Linked DNA regions of Homo sapiens. The protein of the gene in region 1 purifies or fractionates together with the protein of each later gene. This does not show direct contact. Each region holds a gene or a part of one and is shown on either strand. Other genes may lie near its edges.

Evidence for each region.
Region 2: the proteins of SPANXN4 (region 1) and ACOT9 purify together in Homo sapiens (affinity purification with mass spectrometry; one large-scale study listed by BioGRID and IntAct). This does not show direct contact.
Region 3: the proteins of SPANXN4 (region 1) and LANCL2 purify together in Homo sapiens (affinity purification with mass spectrometry; one large-scale study listed by BioGRID and IntAct). This does not show direct contact.
Region 4: the proteins of SPANXN4 (region 1) and WAPL purify together in Homo sapiens (affinity purification with mass spectrometry; one large-scale study listed by BioGRID and IntAct). This does not show direct contact.
Region 5: the proteins of SPANXN4 (region 1) and KLHL18 purify together in Homo sapiens (affinity purification with mass spectrometry; one large-scale study listed by BioGRID and IntAct). This does not show direct contact.
Region 6: the proteins of SPANXN4 (region 1) and MTMR14 purify together in Homo sapiens (affinity purification with mass spectrometry; one large-scale study listed by BioGRID and IntAct). This does not show direct contact.
Region 7: the proteins of SPANXN4 (region 1) and FTO purify together in Homo sapiens (affinity purification with mass spectrometry; one large-scale study listed by BioGRID and IntAct). This does not show direct contact.

Annotation. Positions count from the first base shown.
Region 1 is NC_000023.11:143,024,471-143,028,727, forward strand, and holds the start of SPANXN4 (sperm protein associated with the nucleus on the X chromosome N4), read left to right. Parts: upstream 1-1,457; 5' UTR 1,458-1,544; coding exon 1,545-1,622; intron 1,623-4,257.
Region 2 is NC_000023.11:23,700,555-23,702,915, forward strand, and holds the end of ACOT9 (acyl-coenzyme A thioesterase 9, mitochondrial isoform a precursor), read right to left. Parts: 3' UTR 501-2,361; downstream 1-500. UniProt on the Homo sapiens protein: Mitochondrial acyl-CoA thioesterase. Catalyzes the hydrolysis of acyl-CoAs into free fatty acids and coenzyme A (CoA), regulating their respective intracellular levels. Regulates both mitochondrial lipid and amino acid metabolism.
Region 3 is NC_000007.14:55,399,837-55,403,336, reverse strand, and holds part of LANCL2 (lanC-like protein 2), read right to left. Parts: intron 3,381-3,500; coding exon 3,233-3,380; intron 2,164-3,232; coding exon 2,017-2,163; intron 1-2,016. UniProt on the Homo sapiens protein: Necessary for abscisic acid (ABA) binding on the cell membrane and activation of the ABA signaling pathway in granulocytes.
Region 4 is NC_000010.11:86,497,793-86,501,292, forward strand, and holds part of WAPL (wings apart-like protein homolog), read right to left. Parts: intron 2,952-3,500; coding exon 1,926-2,951; intron 1-1,925. UniProt on the Homo sapiens protein: Regulator of sister chromatid cohesion in mitosis which negatively regulates cohesin association with chromatin. Involved in both sister chromatid cohesion during interphase and sister-chromatid resolution during early stages of mitosis.
Region 5 is NC_000003.12:47,338,444-47,341,943, reverse strand, and holds part of KLHL18 (kelch-like protein 18), read right to left. Parts: intron 1,388-3,500; coding exon of another isoform or gene 1,373-1,387; coding exon 1,268-1,372; intron 1-1,267. UniProt on the Homo sapiens protein: Substrate-specific adapter of a BCR (BTB-CUL3-RBX1) E3 ubiquitin-protein ligase complex required for mitotic progression and cytokinesis.
Region 6 is NC_000003.12:9,691,005-9,694,504, reverse strand, and holds part of MTMR14 (phosphatidylinositol-3,5-bisphosphate 3-phosphatase MTMR14), read right to left. Parts: intron 1,002-3,500; exon of another isoform or gene 1-1,001. UniProt on the Homo sapiens protein: Lipid phosphatase that specifically dephosphorylates the D-3 position of phosphatidylinositol 3-phosphate and phosphatidylinositol 3,5-bisphosphate, generating phosphatidylinositol and phosphatidylinositol 5-phosphate.
Region 7 is NC_000016.10:53,707,156-53,710,655, reverse strand, and holds part of FTO (alpha-ketoglutarate-dependent dioxygenase FTO), read right to left. Parts: intron 1-3,500.

The DNA.
Region 1 (4,257 bases):
CTTTTGGCTGTTCTAGGCCCATTACATTTCCATATGAATATTATAATTATCCTGTCAATTTCTATTAAGAAACCTTTTTAGAATTTGTATTAGGTTTGAGTTGAATCTACAGATGAATTTGGAAATAACTGACATCTTCAATATTGAATCTTCTAACCGAAAATCAAAGTATACATCTCGATTTTTCCTTATGTTATTATCTTTGCAATTTTTTGTAGTTTTAACTGTGCAAGTCATTTACATTTTTGTTCAGATTTATCCCTAAGCCTTAATATTTTTTGAGATATTTTAAATTGCACTGTGCTTAATTTCAAATTCCGGTTGTTGAAATTAACTACCAGTCGACCCTAGGACTACCATTGGCTGAAACACTGACTGTTCTAATATATAAACTTCTAATATATAACTTCTAACATATAAACATACAATTGATTTGTGTGTTGATCTTCTATCCTGCAATCTTGCTAATCTCAATTATTGTCAAAGCCTTTTTTTTTTTTTTTTTTTAGATCGACTTTTCTACACAGGCTCTCATGTGGTCTTTGACAAAGGATACTTTTACTTCTCCCCTTCCACACTAAATGCCTTTTGTTTTTCTTTTGCACTGGACACAATCTCCATTACAAAATGTAACAATGCCCACACTGGTGTACATGTTGGTGTTAGATAGTATTCTGCATGTAAACACTCAGAACAACTTCCAGCACATGTGTACCCACTCCTCCCCCAACCCTACACACTGGTAAAAACCATGTTGTGGGAGACTACATTTGCTATGAACATACACCCCTGATTTGAAACAAGACTAGGATACCCAGTAAGGATGTTTATTCACTGAAGTTCTGGCAGACTGAAGGCCATGATTTCAGACTAGAAATAGGAAACTTAAGAGGACTACATGGACATTGGAAAAAAGAACATGGATTGAAATTTGCCTGGCAGAAACCTGAAAGTTAATGGTCTTCAAGGTGCATATGAAGGAACTGCAGGAGGGAAGCGGGATAATTCACATCTCCACCAATAATTAAATGTAGCCACACTAGCTTGGAGGGATTTGAGGTGAGACATCTAAAATACTAGGTCATGGTGAGGGTTGGAAGACAAAAGAATGAATCACTTAATAGGAATGGCTGTGGGGAAGGGCTTGAAGGAATCATCCTCTCACTTCCATGTGAACCATGAACATTAAACATGGAGAAATGAGGAGCGGAGGCAGATCAGTTTGGGATGCATCTTCAGGGGATGCTGAAACAACAACAGCATTTGGTTTCCTCTACACCCCTTTCACCCCTCCCCCACAAACCCAGGGAGTTGTCAGAGGTGGTTCTTTGTGATGCCAAAGCCACCCTAGGACTACCATTGGCTGGGACACTGCCTGTATGATCAAACAAAGCTCAAGGGTGTGGCTTCGTCTTGCTCCCAGGAGGGTATATATACAGGGTGGGCAAAAGCTCTGGGACAGCCCACTGGAAAGCTTCAATACAGCTGTGGAAATCTGCACCCTAGAAGATCCTAGTACAGAAATTCTACAACCAACCATAATCATGGAAGAGCCAACTTCCAGCACCAACGAGAATAAAATGAAGAGCCCCTGTGAATCTAACAAAAGAAAAGTTGACAAGGTCAGATTGTTAGGTTTTGAAGGGAAGGTGAGGGTGAAAGAAAGACACACAGATAGGGCGCGGGTCAAACAGCAACACGGGTATACTGCAGACACCTGCAGAAATGTGGGGCCAGCTTCATGCCAGAGCCCACCGCTACATACAGGCCAGCGTACTTATAGGTATGGGTGGGAGAGGTTTGGGCAGTATGGCTGGCTGCTCGGCGGAATATTGATAAGATGTTGTTATGATCAGGCAGTTTGGCCCTTTTTCTGGTGGGATGTCATCATGGTGTTGCTTGGACCTTTTTCCCCAACAAGATATGATAGGGATGTTTTTTTAGATGGGCCTTTATCCACCTCATGGTCAGGCAGTTAGGCGGGATTTTTCTCACGGCCAGAACTCCCGTGGAATGTTTCACTTTGACCAAGGTCTACAAAATAGAAGGGAGCTTACAAGAGAGTGCAGTTTAGACTGATATTCTTGCCTTCTACTTTATCATAAAAGGAAGAGGGACGTGGTTGATTATCTGGCTGCTTGCTGCTGAATAGGGGAGCTGTATTCAGGGTTTGGGTTTTGAAGCAGTGGGTGTTGGACTTCAGAGTTGTTTTCCTGGAGGCACTGGTACCGGACTTGGCAGCGGAGAAGGATGGTATCAATGTGTTGCTGGGTGGCTGCCTGGACAGGGGAGTTTAGCTTTAGGGAGATAAAGAGGGATATGAAGGTGAGTATACATGGGCCAATTGTAGTATTTGGAGGAGAAAGATTAGGGGACCTAAGAAAGCGGCCCCCTGCTATCCCAGTGCTGAGTGCAGCAGAGATGTTTAGTTCTGCTAACACTAGAATGAAATGTAGAGCCTGCTTAGTGTGTGTGGAGGAAGATGAGACAGAAGCTACTAAAGGAAACCGGATGGTCTGCTTGTGAGGCAAAATGTTAACGTTTAGACTGAAACACAAGGGTGCATGTTCCTGACCAATTGGCCAGTAGGCAGAGATAAGAGTTTGTGCCACAAAGGAAGAAGACACTGGGGGTGGACAGACAAAAGTTGTAGCTTATGGTGGCAAGTCATGAGAAGATGGGGGTTGAATTCTGCACAAACCCTTTGTTTTAACTTTTATGCTTTTCCAAGTTGAATAGCTGCCAGCAAGGGTAGGCCCTGTGAGGGCATGACAGAAAATGCTGGTGGGGGAGGAGTTGAAGGCTGTTTGGTTTTGGAGAGAGAGAGATAAATGGGTTTTTGTAACTAATAGTCATTGCGGTCCTGATATGGCAGAAGGATATAGGTTGCAGTTGAGGGAATTGTTTGTGCATTTTTTCCAGGGAGCGCTGTTGAGTTGGATACATGAAGAGCGGCTCTGGCAGAGAGGGGAGGGGTTGGTAAGAGGTGTTTTATGGGATCCAGCTTGTATCGTGTTCAGTTAAGAGGCTGGCTATGAGGCGAAGGAGGGTGACAGCCCTGTGTGTGACAGTGTGGGTGGATCTGATAGACTGGGGAGAAAGGTGTTTAGCTGAGCAAGATTATAAACAGGTTTTGAGAATGAATTGGCCAAGTAGGTGAGATGCAGGTTTATTTTGGACTGGGTTTACGTGGCCAGTTTGAAAGGAAGGGCTGTGAACTGCTGGATTTGTGTGGACAAACAAATTTAACAGTTGGAAGAAAGACGGGAGGGAGTGTGACTGATTTAAGAGGCAATGTGTTAGGCTGATGAAGGGGGCTCAACTGTTAGAGGTTGGGGGTGGGGACTTAGAATATTCCACAGACAAAAAGGGCAAAAGGAGAAAAAGGAGATTTGAGTAGGAGTGAAATTTTGGAAGGCGCCCTGCAGTCATACCTCCTGCATTACTGTGGGAAATTGGCATGGGCTATCCAGGGACATGGGGAAGGGACACCAGGAAAGATCTGAAATAAAGTAGGAGATAAAAGATTGGAAATTGGAGATGGAGACTGTTATGCACTAGGGCATTCTGGATTGGCAACTTCTGGAATTCTTGTTAAGTGCAGTGAGGTTGGTCCTGTGAGGGAGAGAGAGTAATTTGGGGGTGAGGAAATTTCTAGATGTGGATCTGGTGCTCTTTTTAGTTTGGAATGGTGTATTCAGTGTGGGAAGGATGTTAGCTTTGCCACTGTGTGAGTAGTTAGGATAACCTGCTGAGGACCCGTCCACTTAGGTTGGAGAGGGGAGGAGGAGGAGTCTGCGATTCAGACCCAGTCCCCTGGTTGTAGGGACAGGGAGGAGTGTTTTGAGGATGGACTTTTGGGCTGGGGATAATAGGGCTTAGGCTGAGGGGATTTGAGGAAATGGCTCATAAATGCATGAGGACCAGTAAGAGAAGTGAAGCCTGGGCCGTTTTAACCTCTAGGGAGTTTTTGTTTGTTTGTTTGTTTTTTAATTACATGAAGATTAGGGGAGGTAAGGAATATGGAAGGCCCACTTAATGTTTAGAGCCTTTGCCAGCTGTTGGTTAGCCTGTGAAACAAATGTTGGCCCATTGTCTGACTGAATCCAAGAGGGGAGTTTAAACCTGTGGATAATATGAGTGAAGAGAATAGAAGTGATGGGGTGTGCCTTTTCGGTGGTGGTAGGAAAAGCTTTTATCCATCCAGAGAATGTATCTACTATTAGCAGAAGGTATAGGAATCATTTGTTGGGAGGC
Region 2 (2,361 bases), about 120 Mb from region 1:
CAGCCGAGAGCTTTCTTGTTTTGCTTACTAAACTTTTGCTCCAACCTCACCCTTGTGTTCGTGCTCTGTGACACAAAGAACTCCGGATACTATCTCAGACAACCAAAGACTGCTACATTTTGGCGCACTGGTGAGACTACAACACCTTGCTAATTTTTGTATTTTTGTAGAAACAGGTTTTCACCGTGTTGCCCAGGCTGGTCTTGAACTCCTGACCTCAAGCAATCTGCCTTGGCCTCCCAAAGTGCTGGGATTACAGGTGTGAGCCACCACATCCAGCAGAAGGTCATTCTTCACCTATCAAAATGGCAAAGATATTTTAAAAAGAAAAGATAAAAATTGGCAAAGTTCAGGGAAATTGCTGATGTGTAAGTGATTGTGTGAAACTGTTCTGAAGGGTTACATGAAATACATATTCAAAGCCTTCAACGTGTGCCTACTATTTGACCTAAATATCTCATTTAATATTTTTCCAAAGAAAATAATTTAAGGGTCAAATGTTTTAGAGTATTTAGGATATTTACTGCAACATTGTTTATAATAGCAAAAAAGAAATACTAGAAAAAGCTTCACTGTACAGCAACAAATGGTTAAATATATAATGTATAATCTATACAATAGCATGCAGTAGGTCTCTTAACTCCACTTAACACATTCACAAAACTCCCCAGGGCGCATCCCTCCCCATTAGCCACCTCCCATCATGTCATAGGTAGATATGCAAAATGCTATATTGAAGGGCCAGGTAAATCTCAGTCAGGATGGCATTACGGCATGGAGAGACAAGTTATTATAGTACAGCACATGCTTGATTCCATGAGTCAAACTGCATGCTTCCAAGAGATAGTTGTGTTCGCTCCTGTGACTATTTCATGCCAGAGGTGCTTGTTGACACTGTGATTTCAATAAACATTACATAAACTAATATAAAAAAATTGCTTGAGACAGGGTCTTGCTGTCACCCAGACTGGAGTGCAGTGGCATGATCATAGCTCACTGCAGACTCAAACTCCTGGACTCAAGCAATCCACTCACCTCAGCCTCCTAACTGGGACTACAGGTGCACACCACCATGCTCAGATAATTTTTTAACTTTTTGTAGAGAAAGGGTCTCACTATGTTTCCCAGGCTGGTCTCAAGCGATCCTCCCATCTCAGTCTCCCAAAGTGCTGGGATTACAGGCATGAGCCACCACTGTGCCTGGCCTAAAAATTTTTTGTTAAAAATGCTTTCCACCGGCCGGGTGCAGTGGCTCATGCCTATAATCCCAGCACTTTGGGAGGCCAAGGTAGGTGGATCACCTGAGGTCAGGAATTTGAGACCAGCTGGCCAACATGGTGAAACCGCCTTTCTACTAAAAATACAAAAACTAGCCAGGCATGGGGGCTGACACCTGTAATCCTAGCTACTCAGGAGGCTGAGGCAGGAGAATCGCTTGAACCCGGGAGGTAGAGGTTGCAGTGAGCCAAGATCATGCCACTGCACTCCAGCTGGAGCGACAGAGTGAAACTCTGTCTCACACACACACACACACACAAAAATACTTTCCACCTAATTCTGAGGCAGAGCCAAGTTTGTGAACACTAATGTAGAACCCACAATAAATATTGCTTCCTTCTTGGGAGGACTTTTTTCAGAGATTATTTTTTCTTCTAAGTTACCTTCCTGTCAAAAAAGGAACGGTCTTGGCTACAGATTTTTTTTTTTTTTTTTTTTTGAGATGGAGTCTCGTTCTGTCACCCAGGCTGGAGTGCAGTGGCATGATCACAGCTCACTGCAACCTCTGCCTCCCAGGTTCAAGCAGTTCTCTGCCTCAGCCTCCCGAGTAGCTGGGATTACAGGCGTCCGCCACCACGCCCGGCTAATTTTTGTATTTTTAGTAGAAACGGGGTTTCACCATCTCGGCCAGGCTGGTCTTGAACTCCTGACCTCATGATCCATCCGCCTTGGCCTCCCAAAGTGCTGGGATTACAGGCATGAGCTACCGCGCCCGGCCTTGGCTGCAGATTAACGGGAATACCTCCCTTGGGCTTCCTAGGTGACACTGTGATATTCGGTATGACCTCCCTTGCTCTATTCCTTGGAAGAAGTACAGGCACTGGTCAAGAGTGCCCGGGACCCACATTGCCTGGTTTTGAATCCCAGCACCTCCACATGTTACGCGTCGGACCTCCAGGAAGTTACTTAAACTCTCTGTGCTTCAGTTTCCCGAGTGGCCTAACCCTAAGGGGGGTTACAGAACCTGCCTCATAGTGTTGATTGGAAGAAATAAAGGAGCTCAGACCTGCCAAGGGCTGAGGATGGTGCCTATCTAGCACATGGCAATGCTCCATAAGCATAAGCAGCTATTATTATTGTGGT
Region 3 (3,500 bases), on another chromosome or scaffold:
CGAGTGCCTGCGATTGCAGGCGCGCGCCGCCATGCCTGACTGGTTTTCGTATTTTTTTGGTGGAGACGGGGTTTCGCTGTGTTGGCCAGGCTGGTCTCCAGCTCCTAACCGCGAGTGATCCGCCAGCCTCGGCCTCCCGAGGTGCCGGGATGGCAGACGGAGTCGCGTTCACTCACTCAGTGTTCAATGGTGCCCAGGCTGGAGTGCAGTGGCGTGATCTCGGCTCGCTACAACCTCCACCTCCCAGCTGCCTGCCTTGGCCCCCCAAAGTGCCGAGATTGCAGCCTCTGCCCGGCCGCCACCCCGTCTGGGAAGTGAGGAGCGTCTCTGCCTGGCCGCCCATCGTCTGGGATGTGAGGAGCCTCTCTGCCTGGCTGCCCAGTCTGGAAAGTGAGGAGCATCTCTGCCCAGCCGCCATCCCATCTAGGAAGTGAGGAGCGTCTCTGCCAGGCCGCCCATCGTCTGAGATGTGGGGAGCGCCTCTGCCCTGCCGCCCCGTCTGGGATGTGAGGAGCGTCTCTGCCCGGCCGCCCCGTCTGAGAAGTGAGGAGACCCTCCGCCCGGCAACCGCCCCGTCTGAGAAGTGAGGAGCGTCTCCGCCCGGCAGCCACCCCGTCTGGGAGGGAGGTGGGGGTCAGCCCCCCGCCCGGCCAGCCGCCCCGTCCGGAAGGGAGGTGGGGGGGTTAGCCCCCCGCCCAGCCAGCCGCCCCATCCGGGAGGGAGGTGGGGGGGTCATCCCCCGCCTGGCCAGCCGCCCCGTCCGGGAAGGATGTGGGGGGGTCAGCCCCCCGCCCGGCAAGCCGCCCCATCCGGGAGGTGGGGGGCGCCTCTGCCCGGCCGCCCCTACTGGGAGGAGAGGAGCCCCTCTGCCCGGCCAGCCGCCCCGTCCGGGAGGGAGGTGGTGGGGTCAGCCCCCCGCCCGGCCAGCCGCCCCGTCCGGGAGGTGAGGGGCGCCTCTGCCTGGCCGCCCCTACTGGGAAGTAAGGAGCCCCTCTGCCCGGCCAGCCGCCCCGTCCGGGGAGGGAGGCGGGGAGGTCAGCCCCCCGCCCGGCCAGCCGCCCCGTCCGGGAGGGAGGCGGGGGGGTCAGCCCCCCGCCCGGCCAGCCGCCCCGTCCGGGAGGTGAGGGGCGCCTCTGCCTGGCCGCCCCTACTGGGAAGTGAGGAGCCCCTCTGCCCGGCCAGCCGCCCCGTCCGGGAGGTGAGGGGCGCCTCTGCCCGGCCGCCCCTACTGGGAAGTGAGGAGCCCCTCTGCCCGGCCACCACCCCGTCTGGGAGGTGTACTCAACAGCTCATTGAGAACGGGCCATGATGACAATGGCGGTTTTGTGGAATAGAAAGGGGGGAAAGGTGGGGAAAAGATTGAGAAATCGGATGGTTGCCATGTCTGTGTAGAAAGAGGTAGACATGGGAGACTTTTCATTTTGTTCTGTACTAAGAAAAATTCTTCTGCCTTGGGATCCTGTTGATCTGTGACCTTACCCCCAACCCTGTGCTCTCTGAAACATGTGCTGTGTCCACTCAGGGTTAAATGGATTAAGGGTGGTGCAAGATGTGCTTTGTTAAACAAGATGCTTGAAGGCAGCATGCTCGTTAAGAGTCATCACCACTCCCTAATCTCAAGTACCCAGGGACACAAACACTGCAGAGGGCCGCAGGGTCCTCTGCCTAGGAAAACCAGAGACCTTTGTTCACTTATCTGCTGACCTTCCCTCCACTACTGTCCTGTGACCCTGCCAAATCCCCCTCTGCGAGAAACACCCAAGAATGATCAAAAAAAAAAAAAAAAGAAAATTGGAAAAAAAAAAAAAAAAAAAAAAAAAAGACTCCATACCAAATGTACTCAGGAACTCACTGGACTCTTAGAAATCCACTGCCTGTGGTTTATGTGGCAGAGTTACGCATCAGCGATTCAAAGTAGGGTATTTCAATCCAGACTGCTTTGTTTATATGCAGGATTCATTTCCCATTTCATGTTTGATCAAATATACTGTAGTGTGTAAGAGTATTCTTACCTACCTGCATTAACATATAGTAAATTCCAGCCATGCCATGGGCTGCTCCAACGTACTGCTTCCGGTGCCACTGGTACAACAGCGGGCAGCGCTCCGTTTTTCTTTCTTCCCTTGACAAAGTCTTACCCGATTCAATAATAGCATTGACTACCTACAGAGATAACAAGACAGCATAAATCTAAAACTGTATATGTACCCTGTTGTAGTCTAATTAACAGTATGTCATATATATATGACATATATAGAGAGAGAGGCAGAAGCCTTAATCTAAAAGTCTTTAAGCAGTTAGCAGCTAATATAGTTATATTTATTTTATAAATTAATAAATGCAGGCAAAAAGAAATCAGGAGCCAATGTCAGAGTAGGAAAAGATACTGTCTAAGAAATAAAAAATTCTTTGCATAAAAAGTCAACGAAAAATCTAGAAAAACTTCTTATAAAACTGTTTTGGATTTCTTAGTTGCTTCGTAGCTGCAGTATTTTTCCCAAAAGAGCAGCACATACACCTATCAGGAAAGGCTGGAGGAACTGGCTTTATTTATAAAAGGCTAATGATATGAGGTCTGCTGTGGCATGAAGGATTTCAGTTAGATCAACAGAATATCATGTCTGGGATGACTGTTTCCTCACGTCTATCTCCTCTCATCCTTTTTGGGAAAGTATTCCAAGTTTTAGCTGGGCATCTGGCTCCCTAGTTAGAGACAGCTGAACACAGACACTTGATGAAGTTCTGGCACTGGGATGGGAGCAGAAGTAAAGAGGGCAACTTGGAGACTGAGTCCCTAACAAGGAAGCTGCGTTGCCTCCACCTCCTCTTTTCCCTTCATAGGCTGAGGGGCTAAACTAGCCTTGGTCCTGCAAATAAGGGTATGCCCCTAGGATAAGGCAGAATGAGACAGAAGAAGCTGGTCCCCACTCATACCAGCCTGAAATGCTTACCAGCTGAGACATCTCACGAAAGATAAATAAACATTCTAACTTTCTGAAGCTGCTGCTGTTTAGCTCCAGTAAAAACTGATAAATTAATACAAGATGAAAGAGAGTACAGATTTTTTTTGTTAATGTTCCTAGAAAAAAGCAGGGACTATTTCTTACTTTTGATGAGTTGCTTTAAAAAAGTAATGCTACCTAGAAGTAAAGTCCAGCTGTTAATACAACTCAATGCTAGCAAATAGGTTTGAATGGTAGAGACGCCCATAGTTACCCATACCCCATAGTACCTCTTTAATAGCTGACTCACACACGGTGCCTGGACCTATCTCTGTGTTCAGGTACAGTAAGGCATACAGATAACCTGCCCGTCCATAAAGCAGCTCATCAGGAAGGTCTGATTCTTGGCAGACAACCGATCTCTGGAGCTGCAAAAGTCTAACCAATAAGAAAAATTAATTTTTTCCCAGTGGAAGTCTAAAGTACTTCTTCCTGAAACACTAACCCTGTTGCTTTAGGAATTACCTATTATTTATTTTACATTTAAAACAATTATTT
Region 4 (3,500 bases), on another chromosome or scaffold:
CACCAGAAAAGGAGGACAGTTATCCTTGGCAAGAGATTTAAAATGACCTAATATAACAAAGTTTAATGATTTGTCGGTCTTCAAACACAACTAACCAAAGAGTCAGTTTATTTCCCAACTGGTTAAAAATATGTATCTTTTTCTAAGCGAAACAAAATAGGAAACATAGAAAGACTCTTCTCTATCCCAATGCTTAAAATTTTTTGCTGTTTCACTTATGGTATGAAGACTCAAATTTCAACTTTGGGTAGATCAACCAAATGGCCTCTAATTTTCAAATGTTATTTAGCATCTACTTCAAGTTTCTCAAAGGGAGTCTAATTTCACATTTTACATCTTTAAAAGTTGTATTACACAAGATGTAAATTTCAGCCACAGATTCTCAATTGCAGGGGATAACTTGCTATCCAGGTTAGAATAAAAGCTTATAAGTAAACTACAGCAGGACAAGGGCGCTGGTATTGTATAGCAGTATTTATCATTCTACTGAGGAAACAAATGCCTAGCTGTTCTGCCTAGCCAGATCTTAAGTGACTATAGTAAGGCTGCTGCAAATTTCCAGTCTCCAGAAAAGATTCAAAGACAACACTGGATGTATTTCTTTTTTCTTTTTTTTCGGGGGAGGCAGGGGTGAGCCCCTAGGGGTACTCCTGTGTATGTCTAGTTTTGAAGAATAAATTAAGCAAAACTATTTTCAGGCCAAATAAAGCAAAATGGTAGGTAATCTCAAGAATGACTTATATTCTACAAGAGAATTTGTATTTCAAAATACTACTGTAATTCTAATTTACCATAATGACACTTCTGTGGCCCTACCAGGAAAAAAGCTTTATTTAATATGTAAACCAATCCAGAAAAACTATATTTGGTTAAGAAACCATGTATCCTAGAAGCTTTCACAAATTCTTCCTCACTAGATAGTCAATCCACTTCACAAAGCCCTTGTCAGGTAATGACTTAATTATGGCAGAGCTAACCTATTTCTTTTGTTTGTCTCTCACAGTGGAGACTGAACTCCTTGAGGACCCTTAGTCACTACTGAGTCTACAATCTCGGCACAAATTAAATTTCCACAGTTAAGAGGGAATGCATACTTACCTGGCACTTTTCAATTTTATTAAACCAACTTAGGAGGGTTTGAGAGTGTTTTGAATGTTTATTAGTTTTTAGCCAACCACAAAGAGTTTTTAAATTCTAATCTTCTGGTATTTCCCTCATTATAACCACCTGTTATCAGTACAGTTCCAAAGGCCCAAAATCTAATCTATGTTTTCACTGCATTTGCATTTGTCAAGTGGAAACATCACGATGTTTGGTGTCCCTGCCCCATACACATATATGCTTTAAAATTCTCAAGTGCTAAAGGTTAAATTAAAACTCAAATATGAAGACTCTCCAATCTACAAATTGGTTCCTTACAACTTGGGACCTGATCATTAACACTTGAAATGCTGTACCTTTAGATAAGGTGATTTACGGTTCTAACAGGTACTTTTAATAAATATAACAAGCTAAACTTGAGTATCTAGGAAGAAACTATGCAGCTGTTGATTCAAGCCTGAAAAACACATTTAAAGTAGCCCCCCCAGCCATCAACAGGGAATACATGCCAGTTCCTAGTGGATGCCTGAAACCAGGAATAGTACACCAAAACCTGTATATACTATGTTTTTTCGTATACATACCTATGATAAAGTTTAATTTATAAATCAAGCACAGTAAGAGATTAGCAATGACTAAGAATAGAACAATGATTTTAACAATACGCTATAATAAATGTTATGTGAATGGGATCTTTATCTTATTATACTGTACTCACCTCTTTTCAGAATATGGTTGACCTTGGGTAATTGAAACCACAGAAAGTGAAACTGCAGGTAAGGGGGAACTATTGTACTTATTATACATATTTTTTAAATTCTTACCTGCATTGTTAGTACCAGACTGACTGTCCTGGGAATTATCATTGCTTTCTGGGGGAGGCTGCAAGGAGGGTGATGGAGCTGTTTTAGTTCTTTTTTTGCTTGTCTTTCTTTCTACTTGACAGTCATCATCTTCATCATCTTCGCTTTCACTGAGATCATCAAAGCCAAAATACTTAATTTTGTAATTAGAACTTCCAGAACCTCCTTCATCACCTCCTGTCTCATGATCTTCAAAACCAAAAAATTCAAGTTTAACATCCTTTTTGGATTTAGTATTACTAGGTCGAAATCTAGTAGTAGTCTTAGAAGTTGCAATATCTGCCTTTTTTCTGAGACGACCAGCTTCTCCCAAATCTGCAGGAGTGGATGCAGTGAACTCATCCATGCTGCGTTCCATAGTATCCTGTATGGTAACATTACAAACTGACAAGCAAGATGGATGTAAAACAGTGTAATCTCTAGTCCGTCCAACTGTCCCTCTAAAACTGGTCCCACAACTTACACCCCCTTTCTTTGCCTGATTCAGGCCATCTTTACTCGATTCACTGTTTGCTTTGGCTAAGGCCTGACTGGTGCCGTCCATCAGCTTATCAAAATTTGATGCTCCTTGGGAGGATTTCGTTTTATTGGCCCTACAGTACGTCCTACAGTTGGTTGGCCTAAGAACACTTTGTACAATATCTTCCTCAATGGCTTCATTCAGATTTTCCAATCGATTTTTAAAATCGTCATCCTTCATCTCCAAAAGGGGATCACTATCCAAACTTAAAATACAGTCTTCTGATCTGATATCTTCAAAATCATTATCCCATTCAAACAAACCAGTTCTAACAGATCCCTTGATTGGAGATATTTCTGATGGTGATTCTGGCCTTTTCCCAAACTGGGAGTTCCAAGTATCATTTGTTTCCTTGATTTCAGAAGCCACTGTAGTTTCTGCATTGGGTTTCTTAGTACTGTCATCAGCATTTTTGTGAATATGGTGACTATTCTTTTCATGTTCTTCATGAAAATTCTCCACTTTATCTGTAAAAATAAGTCAAAGGATAAAAACATGAGTGGTATCAACATAAAAGTTAATAAATAACATATATGTGGTTAATCAATAGTATATGATCAATCTTGGAAGAACTGCAAATAATTTTAAGTTGTGAAGAAATTAACATTTACATATCAGACATTTCCTCTCCTATCTTTTCAGTGTATAGCTCTCATGCCTTCTACTGACCTTTCCTCAGGCAACCAAGTCCCTTAAAATTGTAAACTCACAAGAAATTTCAGCAGGGTTAAGCAACTGAATCCATTCAGAATGACATGTAAATGACTCAGCCAAACCTTCTTAGGGGTATTATGGGCTTTTCAAATAAAGATGCTTAAATTAAAAATCATTTAGTAAAACCTAAACCAACTGAACAGTTAATAAAAACCTTCTACCAGTGTTTTTATTTATCTGGGATAGGGCTGCCCATAAGGTATGCTAGTTCTATCCAGAAACCTGTCCATAGGATCAGGTTTCTCTAGCTATTTCTGTTCTTTCTTCTAATCCTAAATGCCATATAATCTCAAGGGAATTTT
Region 5 (3,500 bases), on another chromosome or scaffold:
TGGCTAATGTTTTTTTCTCTCTCTCCTTTTTTTTTTTTTTTTTTTTTAAAAGAGACAGGGTCTCTCTTATGTTGCCTAGGCTGGTCTCAAACTCCTAGGCTCAAGTTACCTTCCTGCCTTGGCCTCCCAAAGTGTTAGGATTACAGGCGTGAGCCACTGTGCCCAGCCCTTCATGTGGTTCTTCACCTCTTGGTCCTCAACCACCCTTCAGCTTCACCCCACACCACATGCCACCCACCCTGCTCCGTCTCCCATCCACACGCTGTGCTCTAGCCCATGAGAGGATCATTGCTGTTCTCGATTACAGTGAACACTTTCTTATTGCAGCCTCACTCCTTGTTGTCTCCCTATGATGAGCAAACACCTCCCATTGGCTATCCATGACAGGTCTCACCTTGGAAGACATCCCTGCTACCCTGTCCCTTCCTGCAACCCTGGGGAAGATGAAGGTTCTCTCTGCTCTGTGCCCAAGAGCTTCTGACACAGGCCTCCAGGGTAGGATGATCATGATGCAACCCATGGCCCAACCACATTGGATGCTTTAAAGGATCTCAGACACCCAGCTTGCTGTCTGATCCACAGTAGATTGGTCAAGTGAACAGAATACTGGCTTAAAGGCATCCTAATAAGTCCATTCAACTAATTTGTTTATATTTTATTATATAAGATGAGAGGATTCAAATACTGAAATGAAAAACTCGGGCTAACCTTGTCAATGTTTTTCAAAGAGTGTTCCACAAATGAGTCCCACAAGATGGTGACTGTTGTGTATATAAAACCCGAGGTTAAACAGAGTTATTTACTGCAGGGTTTCTTAGAGTCTTTAAAATGTTAATATATCTTATGGAAAGACAAGGACTCTGGCAGTTCAGACATCAACATTTCCCAAGCCTATCTGACCACAGAACTTAAAAACATTTTTTTTTTTCCAAATCATATCCTACCCACTTTGGAACATGCTGTTCATCTACTTCTTATTCCCTCTTGCCTGTATTTCCATTAAAATGGGCTGATTTAGCTAAGAGGTACAGACCATTAAATAAGTATTTCCAAGCAACTATGTAGACTATTTGTTTTAAAATTTTATTTACTCATTCTTTCACTTAACCAAGGGTTATTAAATATCTAGTATATACAAAGTACTATACGGGCAAAAAGGTAAGACATTCTCTACCCTTGAGAAGCTTAAATTAAAAAAACTACAGTTCTGATTTTTATACTCTCTGTTTATAAGCTCCAGTTGCCCCAAGGGAGCTGGAGTCCTTACTTGTCCGTCTCAGGTGAGTAGGTCTCCACGGAGCTGAGGGAAGAGTTGCCATCGTAGCCCCCACAGACGTAGATCTGCCCATCCAGCACGACTGTCCCCATGGCACTGAAACAGACAGAGCTGTCATCCCAGATGAGCCGCAGCCTTCCTGGAGCAGCCTCTCTTGCCCACTGAGAAACAAACCTATCAATTGCCTCTTTCTGCAACGTAAATCTAAGGTATGTGACTAAGTAAAGGCATAAAACTGAGGTGACAGAAGCTGCCCCATCATTCCTCTTGTGCCCCACCCTTCTACCGCAGGCTGCCTCCCCTCCCTGCTCTTCTCTGTCCTTAATCTTTCTAAAATGCTTACCTTCCACCTCACCATGTGAAGGTCGAATTTACCTTGAAGGCCCAACTCAACTTCCACTCTCCTCTTCCTCCCCTTTGTAAGAATTACTCTTTCCCACCCCCACGCTCCCTGAGTGGCTTATTAATCAGCAGTTGTTACAATCATTCATTCATCCATCAGATCTGTAACAGCTGGGGTTTAGAGTGGTAAGCAAGCCAAAGTTCCAGCCCACAAAGCACTTATGTTCTGACATTATAGGCTACCAGGAATCTATCTGCCACTTCTGTGTGTAATTTTTAATCAGAGCCTTGCTCTGTCACTCAGGCTAGAGTGCAGTGGTACCATCATAGCTCACTGTGCCTTGAACTCCTGTGCTCAATTGATCTTCCTGCACTTCAGCCTCCCAAGTAGCTGGGATTACAGGTGTGCACCACCACACCCAGCTAATTTTTTTTTTTTTGAGACAGGGTCTTGCTATGTTGCCCAGGCTGGTCTCAAACTTCTGTCCTCTTGTCTCAGCCTCCCAAAGTGCTGGGATTGTTAAGAGTGAGCCACCACACCCAGCCAATCTATCTGCCACCTCTTAATAAGTGAGGAGCTCCTGGAAGACAGGAAAGGGCCTTCACCTGTGTGACCCTCACAGTGATAAGTATGATGTCCTGTATGTAACAGGCACTGAATGTATGTTTGTTGTGTTACCTCTGCTTTTTCCCACTCAATTCACAGATGTTGTTTTCATCATGTGCATGGCCTCTAATTTATCATAGTGGCTGATGCCACAGCTCCTGTTTGCTGTGCATTTACTACATGTGTTAGGTACTCTACATTTGTTATTTTCTTTTTTTTTTTTTTTTTGAGATGAGGTCTTGCTCTATCATCAGGCTGGAGTGCAGTAGCACAATGATGGTTCACAGCAGTCTTGACCTCCTGGGTTCAAGGGATTCTCCCACCTCAGACTCCCCAGTAGCTGGGACTACAGGCACATGGCACTATGCCTGGCTAATTTTTTTTTTGTATAGACGGGGGTCTCACTATGTTGCCCAGGCTGGTCTTAAACTCCTGGGCTCCAGCAATCCTCCCGCCTTAGCCTCCCAAAGTGCTGGCATTACAGGTGTGAGCCACTGTGCATGGCCCACTTGCTATTTTCAGCCCTTAGCACACCCTGCAAGGAAGGAAAGAGCACCATAATCACTGTACAGACAGGCAGCCATAGCTTGGGGAGGCTGAGGTCTCTCCTCAAGACTGCCCAGAGAGAGGCCTGCCTCAGATTTAAATGAGACAAGCCCAACTCCCCAACTCCTTACATGCCAAGCTCTCCTAATATCAAAGACCCAGGGGTCTGGTGGTGTAATCATGTAATCTTCCCTCCTACACAACGCCTTATAAGGAATTCAGCACAAATGCCAAGCTGCCCAATTCACTATTTTCAAATGTGATGCTGGTGAAGATTAAAAATGAATCTAGGTTTCTAACAAACAGGAAAATAAAACATACCAGGCTTAATGCTACCTTTTCTTTTTTTTGAGACGGAGTCTCACTCTGTCAACCAGGCTGGAATGCAGTGGCACGATCTTAGCTCATTGCAACCCCCGCCTCCCCGGTTTAAGCAATTCTCCCTGCCTTAGCCTCCCAAGTAGCTGGGATAACAGGCGCCCGCCACCATGCCTGGCTAATTTTTGTATTTTTAGTAAAGACAGGGTTTCACCATGTTGGCCAGGCTGGTCTCAAACTCGTGACCTTAGGTGATCCGCCCTCCTTGGCCTCGCAAAGTGCTGGGATTATAGGCGTGAGCCACCATACCTGGCTTGCTGCTACCTTTTAAATGTACATAGTAATCAAACTGATCCACAGAATGTCCCTTTCAGGGACATGATAACTGACCCCCTGAACCAGCCAGAAAGA
Region 6 (3,500 bases), on another chromosome or scaffold:
CAATCTATCTATCTAATCTATCTTTTGTATTGGCAAGGTCTCACTATGGTGCTCAGCCTAGTCTTGAATTCCTGGGTTCAAACGATTCTCTGACCTTGGCCTCCCAAAGTGCTGGATTACAGACATGAGCCACCATGCCCAACCCATTATTTCATTTTAACCCAAACTTACGGGAGGGGGGCCTGAATCATTTTTCCCCCTTTAAAAACAGGATAAAATAACTGAGCTCAGAAAGGAAGTGATTTTTCCAAGTCAGACAGCTAGGACTGCAAAGCTACGACGGAAACCCAGGTCTGACCAAAGCCCTTGCTGATAATATACTCATCTTTCTTCCTGATAAGGGGTGGGTGACTCAGAAATTGGTTCATGGACCACCACGTAACCTCCAACGGGAGTAAAGCACACAGCTTCTACCTATAACTGAAAAAAGAGGCTCTCATCTGACCCTGGATGTGAGAAAGGAAGCAGCGTGTCATCCTGGGAGGTGCTGTCAGCCATTTTGCCACCATCAGGGAAGCTGGCCAGAGAACAAAGCTAACATGCAGGAGGCAATGGGAACAAACTACGGGGAAATAGAGCTGGAACCTTGATCAGGCTGCACCTGAAGACTGATTTTCCACTAGGCTTTTCCATATACAGTTGTTCCTTATTATTCCTTTTTGTTGCAGGGAATTGGTTCCAGGATTGCCACCCACTTACCACCCCACCAATACCAAGTCCTTGGATGCTCAAGTCCCTTACATAAAATGTAGTAGCACAGCTGATCCTTGAACACACGCATGAACTGCACAGGTCCACTCATATGCAGATTATCTCCTGCCTCTGCTGCCCTACACAGCAAGACAGCCCCTCCCTCTATTTTTTCCTCAGCATGAAGACCTTTATTATGATCCACTTCTACTGAACACACAGGAAATATAGGTTCCCTTCCTTATGATTTTCTTAACATTTTATTTTTCTCTAGCTTACCTAAAAATACAGTATATAACAGATATACAAAACATGTGTTAACTGACTTTATGTTATTGGTAAGGCTTCTAGTCAACAGCAGGCTATCTGTAGCTTTTGGGGAGTCAGAGTTATACCCAGATTTCAACTGCATGTGTAGGGGACAGCCCTAATCCCTGCATTGTTCAAGAGTCACTTGTATTTGCATATAACCTATGCACATCCTCCCATATGCTTTAAATCATCTCGATTATCTGATACAGTGTCAGTGCTCTGTACATGGTTGTTACACTGCATGTTCACATCTGTATTACTTTCTATTGTTTATGTTATCTTGAATGTTTTCAATCTGGTTGGCTGATCATGGATGTGGAAACGACAGATATGGAGGGCTGACTGTAAATGTGTTTCCTTTATTGTTTCGGTCAGTTTGAAATGTGTTTTCTGTTACTTGCATTTGAAAACATCTGACAAGGCTGATACAGAAGGTTTGAAGGTATACAGCTAGGAAGGACCTTGGCGTTACCTAAGCCTCTGATTACACAGATAAGAAAATGGAAACCCAAAGTCATCAAGTGACATGTCATGAAGTCACACAGAGTTAATACTTGAGCTAAGATATAGAATCCTGGGCTCTGAGGGGACCTGGCTGTCACCTAATCTAAACTTACCCTGCTCCCACCCACAAGCAGACAGCCTAAGACAGAGCTCGTTGCTCAAAGAGCAGTTAGCAGGTGGTGGTGGCTGGGGGAAGAGTAGCTAACTGGGCAGCAGAGGTTGGTCCCTGTGTTGCTACTCAGCTATTCAACCAGGCTGCTGGGCATCCCTCCGCAAACTTCACCTGCTCTTCAGGTAGCCTGGCTTCAAGCTGGGCTCAGTGGTGGCACCAACCCTCCTTGGGCATGGACAATCCTGTGCTAGCAACCTCCCTACTCCTAAAGGATGCATGACTCCAGAGCAGAGGCCGAGGCCGAGGCCATGCAAGGTGGAGCGACCTGCTAACCAGAGCTGGGGGAGGCATGTGAGCTCAGAGCATTGGTCCTGGCCTGTCCCAGCCCTCAACCCTGTCGCTGATGAGAGATTTAACAATGGTCCAGAAATGCAACTTAATCAGAAGCTGCTGCAGCAACAACAGCTAACAATGATTAAAAACCACTGGGCTTGCCAGTAAGGGCTGTGGGCTCGGGGTTAGTAAGAATTGGCACCCCACAGAACTTTCTTCCCAACCTGATTCATACCTACTACTTAACTTTGAACAAAGCTTCACAGATTCATTCCATGGGGGAATCCTGCTTTAAAAGAGAGATGCCTGTAGAATTTGGAGTGTATAAAAACCCAAAGAATTCACATTAGGAGAATTTTGGCTGTCACAGACAGCTTCACTAAAAGGTTTCTTTCCAAACAGCTTCTCCTACCACATTAAAGACCTCACAGGCTATTGTTACCTAAGAAGCAGGGAGGGTAATGACAGGATCCCTTAGGCACTTTAAGATAAGAGACTAAATTAATTTTAATGGTAATGGAAATACATAATTAGAATGCTCCAAATCTGAGTAATCTAGACTTTCAAAACCTCTGACCAACAGGCATCCAAGTCAGAAGAAGTCTGGCTCCAGACAGGCATCCCCCAAACAGACCAGCGGAAAGATCAAACACCTCACAGCTGCCCACCCCACACCTTTCAAAGCCTTGCACCCATCTTGGTCCAGCTATCCCAAGCTTGGCCAAGCCCCCATGTGCAGGGCTCTGAGGTCAGGAGGACAACCCCAATTCTCCTCAGCCTCCCAAGAGGGGGCCTTGGTGGCCATCCTGGACTGGCTACAAGAGCCTGAGACACGCCCTGCAAGCAGAAAGTCACCTGTGAGACTGAGGGACACTATCACAGGATTGGAAAGTGGGATCTTTTGGCAGGCAGGAGATGGAGAGCCAGGGTGTGGTAACGGGTGATGGGGTGCTGCCTCAGCTTGGGAGCTCACTGCATTCTGGGCAGTTAAGACTGAGGCAGGACCCAGAGGACAAGAGGAACCTCTGGTTTCCTCCCTAGTTGTTCAGCAATGCTGGACAGGCAGAAAAGGGGGCAGGAACCATGACCTAGAGCCACAGCCTAGAACAGTGAGGGTCAAACAGTGCCACTGCAGCCTCAGAGTGGCCCTGAGGACAGCTGGGCACAGACAAGGGTGGTGCGGCAGCAGGCATGCACACACAGGATGGGACGGGGCACCGGCACATGGGCTTGTCTGTCTGGCCCCATCTCTGCCCCACCACTTCCACCACACCTCCCATGGGGCCAGACGGCGTGTGGCGGTGGTTTCACAGGCTCAGCTCCAGCACTCAGGCAGTGTTCTGAGCTGAAGAGTTCACGCAGGGGTGAGCACATGGGGCCCCTGTGGGCAGTGCAGTCTGGAACGCCCACTTGCCTCCCGCTTATCTGCTCTGCCTATGTGCAGAGGATGTTCTTCCCCAACTTCCTTCATTGCCTGTTTTTGCCCAGAGGGAAAAACCATAGAGGGGTGATGGGAGGAAGGTTCCAGAAGTTTCAGAATGTTTTTCTT
Region 7 (3,500 bases), on another chromosome or scaffold:
CCTACAGCCAGGAGGCATATGTGGATTATAAATATGTGACCTCTAGAGGCCCCATCTTTCCTCAAAAATATACATGCAAAAATGCAAAATCTGGGCTGCGCACGGTGGCTCACGCCTGTAATCCCAACGCTTTGGGAGGCCGAGGCAGGTGAATCACGAGGTCAGGAGTTCGAGATCAGGCTGGCCAACATGGTGAAACCCATCTCTACTAAAAATACAAAAATTAGCTGGGTGTGGTGGCACGTGTCTGTAGTCTGAGCTACTCAGGAGGCTGAGGCAGAAGAATCGCTTGAACTCGGGAGGTGGAGGTTGCAGTGAGCTGAGATCGCGCCACTGCACTCCAGCCTGGGCAACAGAGCGAGACTTGGTCTCAAAAAAAAAAAAAAAAAGGCAAAATCTGAATCTAATCATAAGGAAACATAAGACAAATAAGAATACAGGGCCATTCTACAAAAAAATTAAATAAATAAATAAATAAATAAATAAAAGATAGCTTGCACACATCACAAATGTCAATGTCTTGAAAGAAAAAGGATGAGGAACCAATTTAAAGGACATGAAAGGACACCAGATTAAAGGAGAAGAGACCAAAGGGACCTGACAATGAAAGGTAATATGCAATCCAGATGGAACCTGGACCAGGAAAAAAATGCTATAAAATTCATTATTAGGACAATTAGCAAAATTTGAATATGGACTTTGGATGAAATAATAGCATTATATCAATGTTAACTTTTTCTGAAATTAACAATTGATTGTGTTTATATTTGTATGCAAGAGAATGTCCATGTTCTTAGGAAATATATGCTGAACTATTTAGGGGTAAAGAGGACTGATGTCTCCGACTTACTCTGCAATGGTTCATTAAAAAAATTGTTCATGTGGATATATATGGCGAGAAAGAGAGCAATAAAGTGAACACAGCAAGATGTTAACCTGTGAATATGGACAAACAGGTCTATGAGAGCTCTAGGTTCTACTCTTGCTCTTCAATAAGTTTTAAATCATTTCAAAATAATAAATTATAACATCTGGGAAAAAATGCATAGGGCCAGCCCCACCCCAGCAGAGGACCCCTCAGGCCACCAAACTCAATCAAGGGCATGCTACTCTACCCCTGGAATAGTAGCTAGACCTCATCACACTGGGTCCTCACACCAACCCACAGAAGCAGCTATTCTTAACCTCATTAATGACTGGAGAAACTGAGGCACGGGGTATGAATCCCCTATCCCTACAGTAAGGAAATAGTAGACGCCATGGTTCTAACTCAAACCATCAAATACTTATCTGGACTGTTCTATTATATGCCTTAGAAGAAAAGTTCATTTTAAAAATGCATGAATACCGTATAGTATTCTCATGTGCTTAACACAAATTAAATAAATGTTAATCGTAGAAAGCTATGTGGTCCAACCTTCTTATTCACCCTCCAGACTTGGAAACAGCATAAAAGTCCATAGCATAAGCAATCACAAGAGAGAAAATATGATCTAAGTTATTTCAAAGAGAAAAGAAAAATAAAAACTAAGTGCCCATTATGGGGATGACAAAGTTTAATTTAAAAAGCAAAAAAGAAATCTTTGTGACTTTGGGATAAAGACTGCATAGATATGACACAAAAAGCATGAATCATAAAAATAAACATTGATAAAGTGGACCTTTCTTAAAAACTATTAAGTAACCTAGATGAATGGAAGATAATGTTTGCAACACACATAGTAAACAAAGGATTTATATCTAGAAAATATAAAGAACTCATAAAACTTAATAATAGGAACACAAACAATCCAACAAAAAAATGGGCAAAGATTTTGAACAGACACTTCACAAAAGAAGATATACACATGTCCAATAAGCACATGAGAAGATGCATAACATTATTACCCATCAGAGAAATGCAAATCAAACCACAATGAGATACTACTTCACACCCACTATAACGGCTACAATAGAAAAGACAGACAACAACAAGTGTTGACAAGGATGTGACAAAATTGTAACCCTCAAAATGGCTGATGGGAAATGTAAAATGGTGTAGCCACACAAGTAAACAGTTTGTCAGTTTCTTAAAATGTTAAACATAGATTTACCATAAGTCCTGTAATTCCACTCCTAAGTATCTACCAAAGAGGAATGAAAACACGTCCACACAAAAACTAGGGTGCAAATGTTCACAGTAGCATTTTCCATAATAGTCAAAATGTAGAAACAAATCAAATGTCCATCAACTGGTGAACAGATAAACAAAATATGGTATATCCTGACACTGGAATTCTTTTTTTTTTTTTGAGACACAGTCTCACTCTGTCACCCAGGCTGGAATGCAGTGGCACAATCTGGGCTCTCTGCAACCTCTGCCTTCCAGGTTAGGTGATTCTCATGCCTCAGCCTCCCGAGTAGCTAGAATTACAGGCATGTGCCACCACTCCTGGCTAATTTTAGTATTTTTAGTAGAGACAGGGTTTCACCATGTTGGCCAGGCTGGTCTTGATCTAAGTTATCCTGACCTCAGGTGATCCACCTGCCTTGGCCTCCCAAAGTGCTGGGATTACAGGCATGAGCCACCATGCTCGGCCTGACACTGGAATTCTATCCACTGTGTAATAAAAAGGAACAAAGTACCAATATATGCTACAACATGGATGAACCTCAAAAACATCCTGGGTGAAAGAAGACCACATATTGTATGAGTCCATCTATATAAAAATGTCCAGAAAAGGCAAATCTAAAGAACAGAGTAGATTCGTGGTTCCCTAGGGAGGAAGTAGAATTGAGAAATAACTGCAAATGAATACAAAGTTTCTTCTGGAATGGAACTGTTCTAAAATAAGACGGTGGTGACAGTTACACGACTCTGCAAATATGCTACCAACCATTGAGTCCTACACTGAAAACAGGTGAATTTTATGGTATGTAAATTATACCTCACTCAATAAAGATTTACAAAAAGAGAGATATGCAACCTCATTAGTCATCACTGAAATGCAAATTAAAATCAAATATCACTGCACACCTACTAGAATGGTTAAAATGTAAAAGACTGACAAGCGATGAAAAGATATGAAACAAGTAGAACTCTCATTTTACATTCCTACTAACAGTTGGTAGGAATGTAAAAGGGTGCAGTGCATTTGAATATTGTTCCCCAAAAAGATATGTCCGAATCCAAAAACCCGGCACGTGTGAATGTAACCTTATTTGGAAAAAGTGTCCTTGCAAATGTAATTAAGTTGAGGCTCTTAAGGATCTCAGGATCATCCTGGATTTAGGACGGGTCCTAATCCAATGACTGGCATCCTTTTAACAGAAAGGAGAGAGAGATTTGAGACACAGAAACAGAGAGAAGGCCATGTGAAGATGGAAGCAGAGAAGTTATGAAGTGATGCTACCACAAGCCAAGGAACACCAGGGACACTAGAAGCTGGAAGAGGCAAGGAAGGAGTTTCCCCTAGAGTCCTTCAAAGGGAGTATGGCCCTATTGATGCCTTGATTTCAAT